Regions from separate parts of the Homo sapiens genome. Here region 2 is linked to region 1. Evidence: fine-mapped expression QTL. Tissue or cell type: monocytes. Region 1 holds a variant in brackets; the other region holds the start of a gene. All regions are shown on one strand. Distances are between the middles of the regions.

Region 1 (8,105 bases):
GCGTGGATGGTGTGGAGGAGAATCTGGGAAACCGTTGCCTTGGAAAGGGACTACAGAAAGGTGGGAGAGCTTCCATTTGCCCCCTCCCCTGGCTCCCACCAGTCAGTCCAGGGAAGGCCTTAACAAAGGCATGCTTGCCCCCCTTGCAGAAGGAAGACTGGGCAGAGACTGAGTCCTAGCTGTGCCCCCCAAAAGCTCAACTGTGCAGGGAATTCCTGAGAGGAGGAGGAGAGTATTAGATCGTAGCTGTGTCCTGCCCAGAAGACTTTCCACTCCCAAGGAGGAAATTAGCTTTTCAGGCCTTTTCACTGAGGGCTACTGGGGAAGGGCAGGGAGTGAGGGCACTGAGGAGCTACCCTCTGCTGTCCCACAATTTTCCTGCTGGTCCTGGCAGGAGAAGCCCAGGACTGATGGCCCACTGACCATCCCCCTGGCTGCCAGTAGCCCAGGCAGGGGTGGCTGCCTCACAGGAATGGCTGCCTTCTCCAGCTCTGAGCAGGTTGAGGCTACCCAGGCTGTTCCTATGAGACAGGGAGTTTGAGACCAGCCTAGGCAACATAGTGAGACCCCCTATCTCTACCAAAAATAAATTAGCTAGGCATGGTAGCAAGCACTTGTACTCCCAGCCACAAGGGAGGCTGAGGTGGGAGGATTGCTTGAAGCCCAGGAGGTCAAGACTGCAGTGGGCTGTGGTGGTGCCACTGCACTCCAGCCTGAGTGACAAGTGAGACTCTGTCTCAAAAAGAAAAAAAAAAAAAAAAGAGTGGGGAAGACACAAAACTCACATGCTTGGAGGGCCTCCTTTGTGCCAGGCCCTGGTTGGTGATTCTCAGCCTGCTATTCAATGGAATCATCTAGAAAGTGGTTAAAATTCAGATGCAGGGCCCCACCCCAACCTACTGCATGGTCTGCATCTCCAACAAACTCCCCTGGGGATTCTGAGGCTGCTCCAGTGTTGCATAATCTCCATCAGGCCTCCAGCCACCCCTAAGAAACATTTATGCTCAGTAAGAACAACGTGCTTGTAGTGCTGAAGGAGCCTCTAGAAAATATCTCTTGGCCTGCCTGTCCTTCAGCCAGAGTTCAGAGTCCTCCCCACCGAGGACTTCCGGGTCCCTCCCTGCAGGGGGTGTGGGCTCTCCTCTTGCAGGTGAGAAGACCAAAGCTTAGAGAAGCCGGACAACTTCCTCAAGGCCATAGTGAGTGGGTGAGACCAGGACTGGGGACCAGAAAACCCAGGCCTTGCTCTGAGGCTCAAGACAAATGCCCACTTACCACCCCTTCCTGGAGTAGTGGATGCAGGAGTAGAAGGCAGAGCCCAGAGGGCCTGATCAGCACATGGGGTTAATGGGGTGGAGGCTGAGGTCCTGGCAGTGGGGGTCACCAGGCTGTGACTGAATGGTGGGAACGAAGAGGAATCCTGAATCCTTCAGGGTGTCTGGCCTGCCCGAGCAGGCGCTGCCCTAATAGGAGACCTTCTGGAAGTTTCCAGTTGGGCATCCTTTAGCAAAGCCATTTCATATTTTTAGCTGCTGAATAGGGTGATAAGCAGTTTAGGTATCCAGTGGCTGGGACTCTCCCATCCCTCACATACGAGGGCAAGACGCAAAGGCAGGGATCCCCCTTCACACCATGACCACTTCCCACTGCCCTATAACCAGTTCCAGTCTGGCAGGACAGCAGGGCCCTCTGCTGGGGCTCAGTTCCCTAACAACTCAAGAACCCCCCCTCTTCCCATCAGTCCCCTTCTCCAATCCACACTCCGTCCTTGCTCCAAGTCTTGCCCTGAGCTGGTGCTGACAGCCCCCACCCTGCCGGTGACTCCACTCCTGGTAGGTCACAGTCTAGCCTGCTTCCGACTTGCTGCTGAATCATATCGGCCAGGGAGCCACAGGAAGAAGAGGAGGGGAGGAAGGGCGGGGCTAGCATCTCCCTCTAGCGTTGCCAGAGGCTAATGTAATTGAAAAGGCCTCCCAAGCTGTGTCCTAAAACAGCTCCCATCAGACCACTCAGCCATTCATTCTCTGCAGCTGGTCCAGGGGTGACTCAAACCACAGGTACAGTGACCCACAGTCCCAGGAAAACAGGGACATGGGACTTTCAGGGCTCAAACTGGACAAACTGGGATGGGTGATCTCCTGTGGTCCACAGGTCTGGCCTGGCTGGGAAAGAGGGGTGGAGTTCCTCCAACCAGCACTCCATCCCTCCCCATCTAAACAAGGACTCCTGGGGCCTCTACTCCCACCCCGCCCCATCCCCGGGTGATACGGTTCCTCTCTTGGCCCCTCCCCATAGGATGATGCAAGCTATGTTTGGATGAGCAGGTTCTGGAGACGGAGGCCTCCAGTTCAAATCCCTGCTGCTTGCAGTGGGGGCAGGGGGGTGCCCTTGATCTACTTTCTTGGCCTCTTGAGCCTCTACTTCTCTATCTGTAGAACGAGGACAATAATAGCACCAAACCCCTGGGGTTTGGGGAAGATGCAATGTACAGTGTGTAGAAAGGGCTTCGCACAGTGGCCGGCACAGAAACTGCTATAAATTGTCTTTGTTGTTATTCTTTCATACCTGGGCCCATCTGACCCACCTCAGTTGCTACACAGGTGGCAAAGACCTGTTTAAACCTGGGTCCTACAGAGCCCCTGAAACAAAAGGAGCTTCTCCTTAAGGACCTCACCACGATGCTGGCAGACAGTGCCAGGCAGGTGTGATTCCAGCCCCACTTTCAGAGTTTTGGGCTTTCGCAAATGCCAGAACAACCACTGGTCTCTGTCTAGCGCCGAGCACCAGGAAGTGTGTTCATCCCTGACCCACAGGAATGGACGCACGCCTCTGGACCCCTCTATTAGGACACATTTAACCTCCCAAGGAGTGGCCAACTCTCAGAGCCCCAAAACCAAGAGATGTAAAGGGCTTGCATTTTTATGCTAATGTAGACCCGAAAGGGTTTTTCTTTTTTCCTTTCATTTTATCTTGGCCAGACACGCTGTGCTCCCTCCCCGGATGCTCTAGTGAAATGGCTGGTGTTGGAGACTGCACAGGGAGAGGCTGGTGGGGGCAGGAAAGGCACTGAACAATTCACATGTGTTGTTCCCCTGTTTTGACACATGGCTCCCCACACTCTGCCTTCCCCTTGAAAACTCCCAGGATTTATTCTTTGGTGTTCTGAAGTAGGCAGAGCAGGTGCTCACCCATTTCATGGATGAGGAGATTGAGGTCTGAGGCTTCAGTGGCTGGCCCAGGCTCCTGAAGCTAAACAGACAGCCCTGACCCACAATGCTCCAAAGGGGCCACGCTGAGGCCCACTAGGGATTTGGCCACAAGGAGAGGTCACACCAGCAGCGGGCAGCAGGCCCTCGCTGGGGAATGGAGATTGCCATCCTGCCGTTCAGAGTTCCCAGAGTGAGAGGTGAAGCCAGGAAGAGCCACTGAGGCACGGGAGAGAGAGGAAAGGGGGCTGGGCCTGGCTGGGCCGGCTCTGTGGAAGGGTGCTGAGTACCTGCCAGGTGGAGTTCTGCTGAATGCTGCAGGGTTGTACCCTCCACTGCCCGCCACACCCCTCACCACTCTCCCTCCCACTGGCAAGTGCCTTGGCAGAGAAGGACACACACACAAACTTCCAGCCTGATGTTCTCACCCTTCTGTCTGCCAGCTGACATTGGCTGCTGGGCCCAGGATGCCTGTCTGCGGGGCCTACAGCCACTGGGAACTGCTCAAGAGGCCGGCTGGGCTGCCAGACAGCTGACTTGGGGGTGACCTTCAGAGCCCAGCAGTCACTGGGGACATGGGCACTATCTAGAATATGAGGGCTGGAGAAGATGCAACCTTGGCCAGGGGAGTGACGTGGGGCTCTTGAGGTACATAATGATTTTGACTGCTGTTATCAACCTAAAAGCACTTTTTAAGCTCTCGCTGTAGGCAACCTCATTAAGGCCTGTGCAGGCAGGCAGAAGAGATATATGTGACATAAGTCCAACGAGAAAGCCAACATTCTCAGACAATCCACGCTGAGAATTACAGGAGGGGTTACACTCAGTGCAGAGAAAAGAGAGGTCCTGGGGGCTACAGAACATCCCAGGTAGCTTCCTGGAGGAGGAGGCCTTAAAGGACAAGGGGGTTTGGATCCATAGAGGGATGCAGGGGGAAAGCTCTACAAGCAGGAGCAAGCAGCTCCAAACAGTTGTGGACTGGGCAGTGAGGGTAGTGGGTGGACGGGCCAGGAAAGGCAAGGCTGAGCAGGGCTTTGATGTCTGGCTGTGAAATCCAGAAGTTTGCAGAATTGGGGAGTGATTTGGTCAGATCCTGGCTGGAGGAAAATTTTGTTAAGAGGAGAGGTTGACAGCTGGGGGTTGGGGGCAGGAGAGGGGCTGTCAAAGTCCAGTGCTGAATGTCCACAGACCCGGGTTCTGGGCCCAGCTCTGCCCCCTCAGGGGCTGGTGACCCTGGACAAGCCACTTCAAACTAGTGCTTTTCAAATGACAGGCAGTGACCCATTAGTGAGTTTCAGAATCAATTTAATGGTCCCAATGAGCATTTTAAGAAGAACAGACTAGAAATGATCAGCGAGTCACCCCTGGCAAGGCTGTTTTGTG[G/A]CACCTGCATCAGATGTCTGTCTGCGTATCGAGCTGCAGTGTGATATTTCCCACTGTGGCAGGAGCCCTCGGATTCCCCAGTCCTAACAGGAGGCTACTCTGAGTGTCCTCACAGGGCTATTGTGAGAATTCGAATTATCTGTGAAACCTCCATAGTGAGATGGAGCATGTTCTTCCAGAAACCAAGTGAGGAAGGTCTGAGCAAAGGGCTGGGCGAAGGGGCTTTGGGTCACTGAGGTCTGGAGAGTTGGGGTTTTTTTTCCACCCCTTAGCCCCTAGCTGGGTTTTTGTTCTGGCTTTTGAGAGCCTTTGCACGGAATGGCCTCCAGAGGCAGCAACCTCCAGGCAAGACAGACAGAGGGGCCTGCAGGCCATTCTCTGCCCCCATTTGCTCCCTGATCTAAATCGTGGCACTGAGGGCCCTTGTGTTTAACAAGAATCTGTCCTTTCTCCGCAGGGCCTGTGTTTTCCAGGGTTCTGAGAATGGACCCCATTGTGACCATGTGGCTTGTCCAGAGGGGCCGGAATTCCTGCCCTGGGTGAAAAAGCTGAATTCCTGCGGAGAGAAGGGGTCTTGGGGCTCCCCAGGCTGCATCCCAGAGAGGCCAGATGCTATGGCCATCATAGACCCCAGAACCCCGCCCCCCAGGCATTTTGTCTCCTGAACATCCCAGAGGGTCTCTGCTGCTGCCCTGTCCACAGCAAAAGAACAAAGCACTGTCTGTCTGTCTCCTCTGACTTGTTCCACTATTCTGGGCAAAGGCCCTAAGTGTGTCTTCAGCCACAGGACAAGTTTTACCATGTCCAGGCCTCAGAGCAGGGAGTTAAAAGGGCAGGTGGGTTAGAACCCTGGTTCAGCCACCTAGTGCTTTGTGATATAAACAAGTGACTTCACCTCTCTGTACCTTCGGTTGTAAAAGGGGGTTAAAATAGTTGCTATCTTACAGAGCTGTCGTGGGGATTACATGGGATAATGTGCAAAGCTCTTAAATGGCATCTGGCCCATGGAAAGGACCCGTAGCCCAATAGCCTGGGTTCACAGGGGGCTAGACTAGGAGTGTGGATGGTGGCCGCAATGCAGGAGGTGCTGACTGCCTACCTTCTCAGTGTGGCCTGTGTGAGACCCTGGCTCTGTCACTCAGGGCACTGATGCAGGACCATGATGACAGACAGGCCTGGGTTCCCATCAGGTGCATTCCAAGGAGTCCCACCTAGATGGTGACACTGAGCAGCAGTCCATGGGAGTGGGAGGAGGCAGGGTTAGGGGAAGTGGGGAGGATGGCAGGAATACACAGTTGATTTCTTAGAGGGCAAAATGGGGCAGGGGATTGCCAGTTCAGCCCACTGCCATGGAGTGCTAGGAGCTCCTCCTCAGGCCACCTGAGATCCTGCTCCCTGTGTAAATGCCAGACTGTTCTTGGCTATGGGGGTTCCCTGGACTTCCAGGGGCTACATGCCAGACCTAGGGAACCATGGGAGGGGGAGTGACAAAATGGGGTGATGGGGTTCAACAATGAAGTCCCTGAGGAGAAGGTCAAGGAGGATATCCTATATTTAAAGACCTTCCCTGACTCTCTCCAAGTCCATCCATCATCCATCCATCCATCCATCCACCATCCATCCATCCATCATCCATTTACCATCTATCCATCTATCCATCCACCATCCATCCATCCATCCATCCACCATCCATCCATCCATCCATCATCCATCCATCCATCCATCATCCATTTACCATCTATCCATCTACCATCCAGCCATCCATCATCCATCCATCATCCATCCACTATCCATCCATCCATCCATCCATCCATCCATCCACCATCCATCCATCCATCCATCATCCATTTACCATCTATCCATCTACCATCCAGCCATCCATCATCCATCCATCATCCATCCACCATCCATCCATCATCTATCCATTCATCCATCCATCATCCATCCATTCATCCATCCATCATCCATCCATTCATCCATCCATCCATCCACCATCCACCCATCATCTATCCATTCATCCATCCATCATCCATCCATCATCCATCCATCCACCATCCATCCATCCACCATCCATCCACCATCTATCCATTCATCCATCCATCATCCATCCATCATCCATCCATCATCCATCCATCATCCATCCATTCATCCATCCATCCATCATCCATCCATCCACCATCCATCCATCCACTACCCATCCATCATCTATCCATTCATCCATCCATCATCCATCCATCATGCATCCATCATCCATCCATCATCCATCCATCCACCATCCATCCATCATCTATCCATCCATCCACCATCCATCCATCATCCATCCATCCATCATTCATCCAGCCATCCATCCATCCATCATTTATCCATCCATCATTCATCCAGCCATCCATCCGTCCATCATCCATCCAGCCATCCATCCACCATCCATCATCCATCCATCTATCTTCATCCAGTCATCCATCTGTCCATCATCTATCTACCATCTATCCATCCACCATCCATTTACCATCTATCCATCTATCATCCATCCATCCATCCACCATCCAGCCATCTATCATCCAACCACCATCCATCCATCCTTCATCCAGCCATCCATCATCTATCTACCATCCATCCAACATCCATCCACCATCCATCCATCCATCCATCTATCCATCCACCATCATCCATCCACCATCCATCATCCATCTATCCATCCACCATCATCCATCCATCTATCCATCATCCATCCACCTATCATCCAGCCATCCATCCATCATCCATCCATCATTCATCTACCATTCACCCATCATCCATTCACCATCCATCCACCATCCATCCATCCATCATTCATCCACCATCCATCCACATCTTGACTGAAGGTCTGTTGTAGACCCAGTCTTGTGTATGAAGTAAGAGAGTGGCAGAAGACACACTGTCCTGCCCTCTTTTTCATTTTTTTGTCCATCTAGCTGGAAAGAGATGGCAAACACCCACGAAAAGACAACATACAAGTTCCCTTGTGATCAGGTGCCCCAAAGCTTGGTCAAAGGAAACACTGTATAGAAATTTCCAGGACAGGGAGATCAGAGTGGTCTGGGGTGGTCAGGGAGGGCTATGTGGAAGATGGGGCACTAGAGCTAGCCCTTGAAAGATGAAGACTGTTTAAAAAGAGCAGAAGCAGGAAGGAGATTTGGGGTGGAAGGGATGGTGTGAGCAACGGTGCAGGGGCAGGAACAGATGTAAGCCTGTGTGTGTGCGTGTGTGTGTGTGTGTGCATGCTGGGTGCGGAGGGCAAGAAGGCTGTATGTCTTGGGGGAGCAGGACAGGCAGCTGGGGCTGGACTGAGCCCCAGAGGAAGCAGCTCAGATTTTAGAAGGAAGTTGCTGAGAACAACCCAGCGGCAGTATTCCTAAAGAGAGATTCTCCCTGAAGGCTGTGGCACCAGCTCTGTGCCTGAGGATCACATTTCTAGCTCCTTCTGGTTTCCCTTGTTCAGGTGGTGGGGTGAGGACTTGTGTCGGGGGAGCCAGAGGA
Region 2 (8,092 bases), 160 kb after region 1:
CCAGAAAGCCACCACCAGATCCCAATGCTCAGCTCCAGGAACCCCTCCAGGTCTGAACAGCTGCTCTGTGTTTATCTGTTCCTCTTGGAGGCTGGGTGTTTTCCATGGGGCGTGTAACCCACTTCCCCATCAGACTGTGAAAAGCTGGGCCGTCCTTCTTGCCTCAGTCTTTCCTTTTCTCTCAGATTGACCGATTGGGTCCTAAATCACCTGCAGTGCCTTGGTGATCAGGAACAGCAGATGGCAACTAGTATATGGTGCATGTCCATGGTGAGGTCAGGCACTGGGTAGACACTACCCCAAATTATCTCAGGCCAACTTCCCAAGAGCCCTGTGAAGTTACAGGTGAGGAGACTGAGGCTCAGAGTGACAGCCCAAGGTTGCACAACTAGGAAGTGCCACAGGTAGGATTCAAGCACTGATCTGCCCAACACCATACTCATTCCATAATGGAACTGGCCCTGAAAAAGACCCTTGCAGGCTGTGGCTGCACATTCTCATTCCTGTGGGGCTGGAGTCACAATCTAAGGGCTGAGAAAAAAAAAAAAAAAGAAGGGCACAGAAATGAATGAGTTTGGGGCCAATTCCTAAGCATGTAGCTCCCAGGACCAAGAATAAAATCTGGGATGATCTAAACAGAGGAAGAATATATTATGTCCACAAGGTCAACCCTTAATTTATTACCCTAAGCATTACTGGGGACCAGATACCAGCCTGAAGTTGCTCTACTCCTCCTGCCTCACAGTGACCCGCCTGCGTTGCCCACCATGAACTCACCTGCAGGGCACATGGTAGATGTCTCTACAGTGAGGCAGTCCTAAAGACAACCCTGTACTGCTCTGTCACCATGGAACAGGGCTGAGCCTGGCCTTCCTGCCCGGATTCTAATTGAAGAGAAGGGCCCCACCTTATATCCACATCCTCCTTTGGAGCTAACCTGACCTGCATTGCCCTAGCTCTGCCCTGTGCCAGCTGCGAGACCCTAAGCAAGTTGGTGAATTGCTCCAAGTTGCAGTTAATTCATCTGTAAAACAGAATCCAAAAACCTACCCCACATTAGGGTACATTCAATGACCTGCAGGAATCACACGAAAACACGAGTGTTAAGTATGTTTCACCATCGATGGTAACTGCTAAACTGGCTATTATTTGCATTCCCCAAAGAGTCCTGCAGAGGATCAGAACATTCATGATTGGTATTTGTCTGAAATAAACAATCAGGAAATAAAACAACTGTGAAAGTGCAATACCTCCCAAATCCAAATAGATACAATTTCTTGTTTGTTTTAGATAAACGAGCTTTTCTCTACCACATGAATTGATATATACCTATACCTGCCTGTGAGCACAAAGAACCCGGTGGACCTGAATTCAAATCTTTACTGAAAAACTTTCAAACGAAGGAATCTGCATTCTGCATCCAGCATCATCAGGACCATTTTCAAGACAAGCGGTCAGAGGCCAAAGCCAGTTTACCTAGGGTCTCCCCAGGCACAGCTCAGAAAGCCAGGAAAGGAGCCTAGCTTCATGCCAGGGAGCCTGACCTTAGTAGCAGCTGCCTGCCCTTCTCAACCCCACCCCAAGCAGGGGCCTGGCAGAGAAGAAGGAAGCCAGGGCTGAGTGCCATCCCCATGATGGAAGCTACTTGCGTGCCTTCATGAACTGACCGAAAGCACAGGACCCTTCGTGTTCAGGCAGCTCCCCCTCCCCGTGGGGATGAGCAAACCCTTTGCAGAATGTCCTGAGAGAACCTTTGCAGTGTGTTCCCAGCACTCTGGAGCCAGCAGAGCTCCTCCTGCGTGGGCCCCAGGCCTCTCATCGGCTAGCTCTGGCTAACACGCACATCCCGTAAAACCTCTCTGCTCTGCAATTTACCAAACCACAGACTCAGAATTCACCATCAGCAGAGGAAAGGCTGGAAGGAGGCTTGCTCCTCCAGTGTAGAGGGTTTCCAGAACACAGGCAATGGGTGCAGCACGTCCTGCCAGCTGACCACACCAGAGGGCCTTACTCACAACACTTGAGCTTTTGGTGTGTGGTATTCACCGTGCAAGGGCCAGGAGAGGAAGAGGCTGCAGCCTCCCCAAACCCGCTCCTCCTGCCCCTGTCTGTCCCACCAGGCCCTTTCTATTGCTTTCTTTCCCCCTTTCAATTATTGGATATGCTTATGTTATGTATTAATATATACAATGCCCCAAATGGGTAGAAACTTTTTGACCACCAGTTATTTGTCCTCTTAGCCAAACCCAACTGGACTTAGGGTACATGCAATGAAAAAAACCCAGCTGTGAGCAGCTGTGTTGCAAGTTACTTTACCCAATCTGGCTCTCCATTTCCTCATCTGTAAAATGAAGGAGTTGAGCCAGATGAGTCTTCGGGTCTCTGCCCGTTCCACAATTCCACAACATGTAACACTTTCTCCTCTCAGTGTTTTCCAGAACTCTAGTTCAGAACTCTGCATGGCCCCATCTGTTCAGTGACATCACTCCCTGCCCCCCCAAACATAATGTCATCGATTCTTACTCGGGAAGCGGAGATGTCCCGGGAAACACTTTGTCTGTAAAAAGGAAGGAAATGATCATTTCGAGGGAACTGGACAGGACTTCTTTTGTGTTTTTCACATAGAACAAGTTATTATCAATCTTAAAACCCAAAATCTTTCTTCCTTTTTGCCAGACCATTAATAGCTGCTTTTCAAAAATACTTTCTTAGTCAGAATCTCACCAATAATAAGCTACCATTTAATAAGAGCTTACTGCGTGCCAGGAACTGGGCTAAGTGCTTTACATAGATGATCTCATTTAATTCTCCCAACAAGTACATACTATTATTATCCTTACTTGAAATTGAGTAAACTGAGGCTGGGGGAGGTTTAAATAACTTGCCAAGGTGGCACAGCTAGTTACTGGCTGCATGCCAGGCTTTGAGCAAGACCGTCTAACTTCAGAACCCCAGCACGCAATCTTGCCTTTCAATCCTGTCTGCAGTGGGCCCCGGTTCTAGTTTGTTACCAGTGTGTCCTGCATCTGCAACCTTGGGCACCATCGGTGGGAGCTGAAATGTGATGTTTCATTTAAAATCCAGAGTTGGAAACGCACCTGCCTGGGTCTCAGAGCAGAGTGCCATCTGTTGAATGCAGTGCCAAGCTCAGCTGAGGACTACAAATGAGAACCCTTAAAACTTAGCCTGCAACATTTGAGAAAAATAAACCCTGGGATATACAAAGGGACATCTGTCCACAGAGCAGGTTGACCACCTGGTGACCCAAGCCCTCCAAAAAGAGCTTTCTTGTAACAGCAGCAGAAAATGCTTGCTGGACCAGATGACACAAAAGAAACAACTCTCTAAGGGTGTCAGGGACTGGACCCGACAGGCACCCACCTCCCTGCCTAGTCAACCTGCCTCCACATTTACCTCCTCCCCATATGAGCCCAGCCGCATTTGCTCAGCTGTAAAGAAACTCAAAGTTCAGAGCTACACTGGTGACAAAGGCAAAAAGAGTAGCCCGAGGCTGACATTGCCACAAACCCCAGTCCCTTTGCAACAGTGGAAGAAAAGGCACTTCAGAGATCAATGTACAATCCAGGGCAGCAACCAGCGCCTGTTTTAACTGTTAAGATTAATGCTTTGAGCACTGGAACTGCTCCTCTAAATACCCAATTTGCAAATAACATGCAGTCCTCTGTGCTTGGGTCTCTTCTATCTCAAGTACAGGAGCACAGACGCTCAGAGGGGTCAAGGACACCGTGTTTACTTCCTAAGGTGTGAGGGATGGGAAGACAGGACCGGCTGAGATGAAAGGGGAACTGTCACATAGGCTCTGGAGCTGCCCCAGTCAACCTTAACCCCTTCTCATTAAAGTTTGGGGGAGGAAGGGGGAGGGGCGGTTCCTCGGAGACCACAGCAAACATTCGCCTCCTCGTGTCTGGAGATGGAGCATCACTTAAGAGGAAATGAACCCGGTTAAGGGTCACGTCCAGAGGAGGGATAAAAGGAAAAGCCACAATTCTCCTCACACCGACGGACACAATGGCTTTATGAGGGAAATCAAAGCTTAGCGCGGAGGGTGGAGGTTGGGCAAGGGGGCGGCGGCTTCCTTCTGCCCCCAGCCCCAGGCCTAGGAAGGCAGAGACAGAGCTGGCGTGGGAGGCAGGGCGCGAGGCTTCCTTCTCCAGGGCGAGCTCTGAAAGCATCTCGGGCTGTGTGAGCGTGAGCGCCCAGGGCCCCTGGGGAGGGCCGAGGAGATGCGCTTTCCCGACGGGGCTGCTCTGTGAGGGGTTGACGAAAGCTCCCCCCACCATCCATCAAAGGCGGACAGATGACTTCACCGTTGTAACAGACAAGGGCAGCCACTTGCCAATTCCAATGCCAAAAAAAGAAACCGGGGGGGCGGGGGTGCGAAGGAGGAAGGACAGAAGAGGCTTCCCTGGAGATCACAGCCCTGCGAAGAAACTCCACGGCTGCTGGCTGCCCAGTGGGCGCTTAGCTTCGCGACCTCACAGCTGGGAGGGGCAAGGGGCCATCCGGGGCCCTCCCGGGACCTCGGGCCACCCCCAGCAGGGTCGGCGGGGGCTGTACTCACGTAGTGCTTGGAGGGGTTCCTCCGCTTCTCCACGTCCACCACGGTGGCATCCTGCACGCAGTAGGCGAGCATCTTCCCCCACAAAGCGAGTGGCGCCCCCGGCGGCGTCACCTTCTCATCCCGGCCGGGCTCCGGCTCCTTCTCCAGCTGCCGGGGTCCCGGGGCCGCCCGCCACCCCGGCCCGGCGCGCCGAACGCTGCCCGGACTCCCGGCGCCCACAGGTCCGGCCCAGGGACGGGGGAGGGTCCCGGAGGGCGCGCGGGCTCCGTGCGCCCCGGGGGACTCCCCGCCGGCCTGCCGCGCGCCCCTTCACTCCCGCGCGGCCGCCGCGCTGCGCTCGCCCGCTCGCTCTCTCCGCCGCCCGGTGGGTCCGGCGGGAACTGGCGGAGCAGAGGAGGGGCGGGGGTGTGTCCCGTCGGCGAGGGGACGGGGCGGGGGCCCCGGAGCCTGCTGTCAGCGTCCTGGGGAGGGGCCGGCGGCTCCCCTTCGCCGCTCTCCGGCTCGGGCTCCGGGGGGATCGGCGCTGGCGGAGGCTGTGGGCGCAGGAGGCGGAGGCAGGGCCTGGCAGGCAGGGAAGGGAAGGGAGGGAGGGGAGAGAGGGGAAGCGCGCGGGGAGGGGCTCCGGGCCGGGGGAGGGGCTCGGGGCGACGGGGAGGGGGCTGCAGCCCGGCCCCAGTGGCAGGGGCGGGCCGACGAGCCCCCACCCGAGCCCAGCGCGCAGCCAGCGGCCTGGCGCAGCACCGGGCTAGTTCGCTAGGCACAAAAACTCAGGGTGGCTTCGGGGGGAGAGGGAGCGGGGAAAGTGAGCCCCGCGCGCCCCCATCCTGGCTTTCCGCCTCGGAGCGGATTTGTGCCTTTTTGTCCCCACTTTTATGTCCCCCTACAACTTCCACCCCCAGATCTCTTTAATGAGAAGTAGTTTATTACCCGGCTGTTACTGCCCAGGCCCCCGAGGAGGAGATGGGAATGGGGAAAAGGCCAGCTTTAAATCCTTCAAGCCAGAGCCTCTTTGGACGAACCACCTGACCCTCTGCAGGTCATAAAGGGTGAATTCTCCCCGGAAAAGTGATCGATTCGTTGCCTGAGTCGTCCATCGATCTGGGCTTGTGTAACTACCCTGTGCATCATTTACCAATGACAACGTTACAGACTCTGCATAACACCACTGCCTTAAGCCCAGGGCTCCCCTGGGGACCCTCCCCAAGCTGGCGACAGGGAAAGGAGCATACAATGGTGGGAAAACCCACCCGGTTGGAGGCCAGCTCACCGTGAGCCCCAGGCTCTGGCATTCTCACCCCTCCCTCTAGTCTGGAAAACCCACTTTCCAAGCCACTTGTCCGTGGTCCCTGGACTTGGAGCACAGTTACTACTTAATTCAATGTAGCTTCCCCCCTTCTAGTTCAACATTTTTTTCCCATTCTGCTTTCAAACATTTAAAGGGTAGTGTTTTCACAACTACTCCAGTTGTTACACAATCACAATAAAGCTTTGTGACTGTGGACCAATGTGAAACATCTGAAAAGAGGACAAATAATTTTGTGACCTAATTGCATTAATACTTTCTTCTGCGCGTTCTCTAGACTGTCAGAACCCAGGCACAGATCTAAGGCTTTATTTATTCACATATTTGCTCCATACAGAGTAACCCACTATTCCTCCAACCTTCCTGGGGAAGGGCGCTAGGACACCAAACGATGGCACGGGACAAAGAAAAAAAAAGATGGATGGGCCTAGGGGGCTCAGACTGTGAGAGATCTTGGCACCAGGCCAGAGCTTCTTGGTCAGAGAAGATGACAGAAAACCTTTGTGAATGTTGGAGCAGGAGTCCTGGGGGAAGGTGCACCTGGTAATGTTGCTCAGCTGATGGGAAAATGGGAGGACAGGGCACTACCTCCATGAGCAAGGATTATTCCCTGAAGGGATGAGAGGTAGACCTGGAACGGGCCCTCCATATTGAGCTCCCGAACTTGGGAGGGTGCTGGCCAGCTCCAGGTCCTCTCTGATGATGGATCAAGACAGCCTGTGAGTTTGTGAGGAAGAGATTCATCATGGCTCTCGGATAACTCGTCTTCTGTGGATGGCAAAGTCTTCTGGAAGTGCTAATAAAACCTGAGAAGCCACCAGCGAGGGGAGCTGGTGTTTAGCTGTTGTGGGGGGAAGAAGAGGAGGGGGTTTAGTTTGATTTGGGTCCCCTTGTGAATCAAAGCAGTCAGCTCATCTAAAACAGCACTAGTGGTTTCCTTATTACCCTTCTTTCGGACCCAGATCCACAATGAACACACCAAGCACAATAAATTTGTAGGAGAGAGGGCCCAGTTCTTCCCCACTTCCTAGCGGCCTACAAAGTGGTAGCCTTTCTCCTGCCTAAAAGACTCCCTGCAACTTGACATTTTATAAATTCAGGCCTTTAAGCCTGACTTGAGCATACTCCCAACTTCCCCCTTTGTTCCGTAATTACCTTTATTGGAGGGAGCAACTGAGTGCTCCCCACTCAACCCCATGGTGCCAAGATCTGGGCAGAAGTTATTTCTACCTGTGGGAGAAAAATGTCTTTTCTGTACTGGGGCCGTATGTCCAAGGGGATTTAAGTATGAAATGGTGCAGGCTATCTCTTCTCTGGGTACATTTCAACCTCATGCAGATTTATTTCCCACAGTGCCTTGGGAATTCCTTTCTGTTCAATACACATTTATTGAATGCCTCACATGTGCCTGGCAATCCCCCAAAAATGACAGAGACTGGGGGAAGTTTCCTTGGAAACAAGGACTGTGCATCATTCATTAAATACCCCAACTATGCGTGGCACACAGTAGGTATATAGGATGGCCTGTGTTGAAAACATCTGCTCAAAGAGCTAGTGCTAGAAAGGATTAGAGAAACCCCTATTTTGCCACCTCCGCCCATGAACTGGAGATGACTCCAACCTAAGGACATTGTGTGAGTTAAAAATGACAAAATATAATTGCAAATTTTTTTTTAAGTTTAGGATAAGTAAGGGAAAGAGAAGCCAACATAAAGATGCAAACTGATACCTGAAAATCTGATTTTCGAAAACAGGTAATTGTAGAATGCTTAGAATCAAAGAACTTTCCAACTAGAAGGGACAAGAGAGGTTATTTATTTCTCTTATTTTACAGAGGAAGAAACCAAGGCCAAGAAAAACTAAGCAAGTTGCTTGATGCCACATAGCCAGTTAGTCCAAAGCCCGCTGTCTTTCCCCTCCACATTTATGTGCCTATACTAGGGCAAGAAGAGCTTGTTTAAAGGGCACACTTAGCACACCTGCAGGTCTAGAATGTTGCATTCACTCAAACCCTGGAGTCCCTGGTTCCAGTTCTCCATTCACACAAGCATATGAACTCGTGATGCCTGGACTTCCCAATAAAGAGGACTGTACAATCCTCTAGAGCAGAGGCCGTGTGTGTCTCCATGGTCCTCTGTGTACGTGCAAATTCCATCAGCTCCCCTAAAGCAGAACCCGCCCTACCTCCTCTCCCATGTAGGGTCTTT

Direction of the effects. Alleles are on the strand shown, and positions count from the first base shown. SD is a standard deviation of normalised expression in the study named.
With allele G in place of A in region 1, the expression in monocytes of the gene that starts at base 4,964 in region 2 is lower (moderate effect, 0.41 SD a copy in CEDAR).

The links. PIP is the estimated chance that this variant, and not a neighbour inherited with it, causes the effect.
Region 2: it holds the start of SH3PXD2A, and the variant in region 1 is fine-mapped to the expression of SH3PXD2A in monocytes (CEDAR, PIP 0.95).

What each region holds. Positions count from the first base shown.
Region 1 is chr10:103,694,769-103,702,873 of GRCh38, forward strand. The region is part of intron 5 of SH3PXD2A (SH3 and PX domains 2A); the gene reads right to left. Among named protein-coding and RNA genes, the nearest start is that of SH3PXD2A-AS1, 48 kb to the right of the region's middle. RefSeq lists enhancers at 942-1,688, 1,253-1,362, 1,798-1,942, a silencer at 1,573-1,632 and a cis regulatory region at 1,865-1,875. The variant G/A (reference allele first, on the strand shown) is at 4,590.
Region 2 is chr10:103,850,613-103,858,704 of GRCh38, forward strand. SH3PXD2A (SH3 and PX domains 2A) reads right to left here and starts at 4,964. Exons shown (of 15, transcript NM_001394015.1): 1 at 4,583-4,964. The coding sequence starts at 4,654.